Regions from separate parts of the Homo sapiens genome. Here region 1 is linked to region 2. The links come from fine-mapping of genetic effects on gene expression. Tissue or cell type: left ventricle. Region 2 holds a variant in brackets; the other region holds the start of a gene. All regions are shown on one strand. Distances are from middle to middle. Region 1 holds the start of RLIG1 (RNA 5'-phosphate and 3'-OH ligase 1). Region 2 overlaps C12orf50 (chromosome 12 open reading frame 50).

What was found. PIP is the estimated chance that this variant, and not a neighbour inherited with it, causes the effect. A credible set is the group of variants that fine-mapping cannot tell apart.
Region 1: RLIG1 starts here. The variant in region 2 is the best candidate, but not a certain one, in a credible set for the expression of RLIG1 in left ventricle (GTEx, PIP 0.65).

Annotation. Positions count from the first base shown.
Region 1 is chr12:88,033,856-88,036,773 of GRCh38, reverse strand. RLIG1 (RNA 5'-phosphate and 3'-OH ligase 1) reads right to left here and starts at 1,238. Exons shown (of 7, transcript NM_001009894.3): 1 at 1,036-1,238. The coding sequence starts at 1,125. It overlaps LOC107984542 (a long non-coding RNA gene), which reads left to right and starts at 1,278. Exons shown (of 3, transcript XR_007063395.1): 1 at 1,278-1,360; 2 at 2,427-2,918.
Region 2 is chr12:88,004,904-88,007,821 of GRCh38, reverse strand. The region is part of intron 3 of C12orf50 (chromosome 12 open reading frame 50); the gene reads left to right. Among named protein-coding and RNA genes, the nearest start is that of C12orf50, 23 kb to the left of the region's middle. The variant C/T (reference allele first, on the strand shown) is at 1,298.

The DNA.
Region 1 (2,918 bases), 29 kb before region 2:
TGATCAGTCTGAGTGGCAAGTAAGACCAGTTAGGTGGTGCAATGAGCAGGACATGAAATATTAACTGTAACAGCTGTGACAGCACTAGAAAGCAGGAAAAGATCAGATGCTATAAGGTAAAAAGCATCAAGGTGAATGGAAAACTGGCATGAAATGATTCCAGGGTTCATTCTTTAATTCAACAAATATTTATCCAGTGCCTACCACGTGCCAGGTCCTAGAAGCTGGGACTAAAGATAACAGGGCAATCTTTGCCTTAAACAAGTTTTAGTCCAGAAGACGAGAAAGCCAGTGCCAATGATGAAACTCAAGTGAGGTGGATTTCCAATGGACATGTTGGTTTTGTTTGAAATCAGCAAAGTTGGGAAGCACCCAACTAATCACTGGGGATTCTACTGATCAAAGACTACAACGTTTTATAGTACAATATGAAAAAATTACCCAAATATAGGTTACTCACTAGCATTTACCGAGGGCACACTATGGAAAACACGTTGCTGCAACAGAAAACCTTGAGAACACCAAAGTTAGAATAAATTAAGTAATTACTGGTAATATGAGGTGTGAACTTCAGTGACCTAATTAGGCTACTGTCAACACCGCCACTGGTTCGGACAGAACAGGTAAAGCAAGTCTTCTAATATCCACCCTTTCTTACTGCACTCTTGAAAAGTAGTAAAGCTTGGACTGTGGCAATTACCTGATTAGGGGGTTTCCCCAAAAGGTGCTGACCTGAAAAGGAAGGGACATGCTGTGGATGTGAGTTATCCATTTCCTTGCGAGGACAAGTTTGAATCTCCTGATAAGGAAAATTCTTTCGCAAATTCCCTCCCTCACAACTAAGAAAAGTACAAGAACCTGGAGCTCAGGGCGTACGGAACTCCCACCCCAGACCTCCCCAGGGAAACCTACAGAGGTTCCTGGCCTGCAGGGCAGTTCTAAAGCGCCCAGCCGCCCTCGCCGGGTTCGCACTGAGCCAGCGCCGCGGGGAGGAGCCCACGCGGGCCGCCAAGCCTGCCCGGCGCTCCTCCGTACCTGATGCTCCCTTTTGGAGGAAGGCTCCTCTTTCACCTCCGTCACAAACACACACGGCATTTTCCGCTGCACGGAGCCCAAGCGCTTCATGATGAGCCCAACAAGCAGTGCGAATGGAGGGCGTGCTTTCGAGCGGCGCCCGGTCCAGTCGCGGAGAAGCCCTGAAGCAGTCACCCGCACGGCTCAGGCCACGCACACTCCGCGCCCAGCCACCGCGGCTGCGCCCCAACTACCAAGCCCAGCGAGGGGCGGGAACGCCCGTCCAGAAGCGGCTTCCTGGCCGCGGCGCCTTCTGGGAGTTGTAGTGCAGAAGCTGAGGCGCCTGGTGGGTTCCCACGTGCGTCCTCCGCCCCCCACCCTCGGTTTTAATAACCGTGAAAAAAAAAAAAAAAAGATGCGTTTCCCGAACGTGGGTACTTAGCAATACCTAGTAACTAATGATTTTTTGGGAAATTAAATAAGATCAAATTATAAGCAATGAACATTTCAGATGTCGATTTAACACAGTTCCAATGGAAACTGCTTGCCTGTTATCTTTAGTTCGTGGGGGAAGCACTGTAGAAGTTTAGAAATGGCTAGAGACATCCCCAGATTCCCAAGCAGAATGAAAACTTCCTTTCCGGTAAGACTATCAGAAAACCCTATAATAAAACACCTGGGATCAAAAAAAGTTGTCGTTTGAACTACTCCTTATTGTGCAGCATAGCATGGTCGAAATGATTCTGATGTTCTTTTCGGAGTGAGTGCGAAATTTCAGCCTTAGACTAATCCAAAAGTACAGGAATACCTACAACCAGATTTCATTCTCAAGTTTTTCATAAGAATCTTGTTTAATTAAAGGTGAGCTCCAACAGCCCAAATGGCTTGAGTAATGGTAGTCAATCAACTGCGAGCTAAAAACAGCCTTAACTTACTGCTCAAAAGAATATTTTGAGGGTAAGTGATAAGATGGACAATGACTAAATAAAATAAATACTAAATATTTAGGAATAGTAGCCTTTCCATCTCATTGAATGTAGTAGTTCCTAGCCTGAAGTTGTAGGGGAATTTTGACTTTACTGCCATCCTTTATGGGCTTGGACTAGGCCCAGGTCTCATTTCTTTGTCTTATCTGCATGTACTCAACTGTCCAGCATGTTACTGACTTAGCCCTTGGAAAAATTAAACAACTATATCTCACTTAGAGGTATCTAACTAGTAAGGGGGTTCTCAAAGAATAAAACATCTTCCTTTAAAAAGTTCACAGTTATATTGAATACTGACAGTGAAAAAAAATAAAATTTAAAAAAAGTTCACAGTTTTTTGATTACTGGATTCAGAGGGGAGGGAGGAAGAAAGAGATTTGCCATTTCAAAGTGTTTACTTTCTTTTCTACTATCTTTTTCTCACAGGAAAACACAAAATGTTCTCCCACATCACACCCCGCCTGCATTTATCAAAAAAGAAAACACCTGATGCTGGCTGTGTGCTGTTGGAACCAGAAACTTTTTAGCATATTATAGTCGAGTGCCAGTGACTTCTTTGTTCTTTCAGAGGCATTCTAAAAAGCGGCGTGTTTCACGAATCTCAGAGACAACAACTTTCACAACTATCAACTGTCACCTCCCAAACTGCCACAGAACCTTTTAAGTCCAACATTCTGTCATTTGTGGGAAATACTCATCTTCTAAAACACACTCTACTTATTCTTTGAATAGTAGTTGCAAAGCTAGTCATCTCTCAGGAAGCACTTTCTATTTCCAAAACTTTGGTTTCATCAGTACCTGGAGCAAAGCTTCTGGCAGAAACACAAATCCTCATCAGGGGAGAGGCACAGGATCAACTCACGGTTATAAACTGGACTCCTGCTCTGACGGGTAGCAGCCATCAACTTTGCCCGATTC
Region 2 (2,918 bases):
TTACAAATATTGATAATTATTGCATATCAAAGTACAATTATATAAGAAAATTACCTCTTCATTAGGTGAATTAATGATCAAAATTATTCTTATCTGTTTATAAAACAAAAAAAGGTATATATTGCTGCCATGGCTTGTTTGTATTTCTCCAAAATCCATGTTGAATATGAATAGGATTAAGGCCTTCATAAAAGAGGCTTCACACAGGGCTTGGCCCTTTTTGCCCTTTTGCCCTTCTGCCTTCTTCTGTGTGAGGACACAGCATTTATCCCCTCCAGAGGGCACAGTAACGAGGCACCATCTTGGAAGCAGGGAGTCCTCAATAGAGACCAAGCCTGCCAGTGCCTTGACCTTAGACTTCTCAACCTCCAGTACTGTGATAAATAAATTTCTGTTGTTTATAAATTACCCAGATATTTTGTTACAGCAGCACAAATGGACTAAGACACTTGCTAAAAACTAATATTCAGAACGAGCAGGTTGTTCTAATATTTGCTAAGTCAGTTACAATATAGTAAACATTTTATAAACTTAAATAAGATGAGGACTCACTTCAATTAGAAGATTTCACAATATTATAAAAGAGATCTTAACTATCTCAATTGGAAGATTTTATTTGAAAATTGTATCTATGGGTTTTTTTCTAAGATATTGTGAACAATTTGGCAAACTTGTAAATAATTCTACTTGCATTTAAAAAATTGTGATGACTAGATTACTTTCAGAATGATGTTGCGAAGAATTCCATGAACCTGTTCCCTAGTGAAATAACAATTGATTTCAATGGTTGATGAAAATTATATGTTAAAAATGTTTCCAAGTGTTAAGAAATTGTCCTAAGGGCATACAGCAAATGAAATCGTATTAATTCAATAAAATATACTAAAGCCAGTAAAAATGGCAAGTCAGTTGTATTGGAACCACCACCCACTCCTTTCACCACCTCTCTGTTTAGTGTGACAGAAGCTCTACTCTGAATGGATACAGCCAAGAACACAGAGCTCTTTCTACGTCCAGCTTCCAGTCAAGAACTATAGTACCTTTCTGGGGGGAGAAAGCTGCTAACATTTCTCATCCTCTCCAATTCCCAACTCCATGTTGCTAGAGCTCTATTTTTCAGGCCTGAATCTTGTTTTCATCCAGCCCCAAGCATAAAGCAAAAGTTCTATCCCACGTGCAGCAGGCTAGGAATAACAGGACCTCAATTACCTTTGCCTCAGTTGGAGCATGGATAGAGGTCCCATGCCAGGAGGCACAAGTTGTAAACACCAGAAATTACCACCCCTGCTTTGTGCCC[C/T]AATTTTAAAACAGGGCGTCACTCCAAAAGAATTAAGTGACTGTCCTTGCTCTTAGCATTAGCACTGAGATTTTGTGCAGGCAGAGAGTAGAAAACTCTGAAGCTCTCGGAAAGAGAACTGAATTTATTTGGAATAGAACATAGTGTGGGGAAGTTTAAGATTAGGGACGCTCTGAAAACAATGGTGATTGGGGATAAGCAATTAAGAGGAGGCTAGTAGCTCCATGAGAGCAGCAAACTAAACTGTAAACCAGCTAGAAGTTTACCAAAGACAACCCGGTAAAGACACAGTTAAAAAGAGTTCTTTTGGGCCAGGCGCGGTGGCTCACGCCTGTAATCCCAGCACTTTGGGAGGCCGATGTGGGCGGATCACGAGGTCAGGAGATCGAGACCATCCCAGCTAACACGGTGAAACCCTGTCTCTACTAAAAATACAAAAAATTAGCGGGGCGTGGTGGCGGGCGCCTGTAGTCCCAACTACTAGGGAGGCTGAGGCAGGAGAATGGCGTGAACCCGGGAGGCGGAGCTTGCAGTGAGCCGAGATTGCGCCACTGCACTCCAGCCTGGGCGACTGAGCAAGACTCCGTCTCAAAAAAAAAAAAAAAAAAAAAACCAAAAAAACAAAAAAACATAGTCCTTTGTCAATCTTTAGTCTACTACTTCTGATCTATTAACAGCTCCTGGCCTTCCATTTCTAGTTATCCCAGAAGGGGATACTGGAACACCTTGCAGGTAACTACTGGGCAGGCAATTTCGCCTGGTGTTTAAAAACATGGATTCTCGCTTGAACCGGGGAGGCGGAGCTTGCAGTGAGCCAAGATAGCGCCACTGCACTCCAGCCTGGGCGACAGAGCGAGACTCCGTCTCCAAAAAATAAATAAATAAATAAAATAAATAACATAAAATAAAAAGAGTTCTTTTGGGATTGGAACAAACTTGAAAGATTGGGCTCAAAGCTTAGCTCTGCAAAGGAGTCAATTTACTTGGGTTAAACTGTGGAGCAATTTATGCCCTAGTGCATTGATGAAAACAATGGGGCATTACACCAGCAATGAATGGAAGCTAACATCTCAGTGTGATACCAACAGAGGTGGACAGCTTAACAGAGAAACCAGGGAATGGAGCAAAATGAGCCCTGCTAAAGTCCGTGTTATCCCTGTTAACTGTGGACATGCCAAGGCTACATCCTCTGAGGAATGACAACAGAGGCTGCATATTGTGGGAGAAAATAAATTTTACTAAAATATTCCAACAAAGTCACTCAAAAATTAAAAAGCAAACAACAAGCTTCAGGTTTAGGATGAGAAGTCAATATTCAGAGTTGCTACAATGTATTATCACACATGTTGAGCTTTCAATAAAAATTATAAGACATGCAAAGAAACAGAAAATTATAATCCACATACAGAAATAAAGGAGGCAACAGAATGCTTATGAGAGGATTGTGATGTTCAACTATGCATTGATTTTTTTTTTAACTTTTATTTTGACTTCAGGGGTACAGGTTTGTTTGTGCAAGTTGGTTCTAAAGATAAATTGCATGTCCTGGGGTTTGATGTACATATTATTTCGTCACCCAGGTTATAAGCATAGTACCTGATAGGTAGTTTTTCAATCCTCA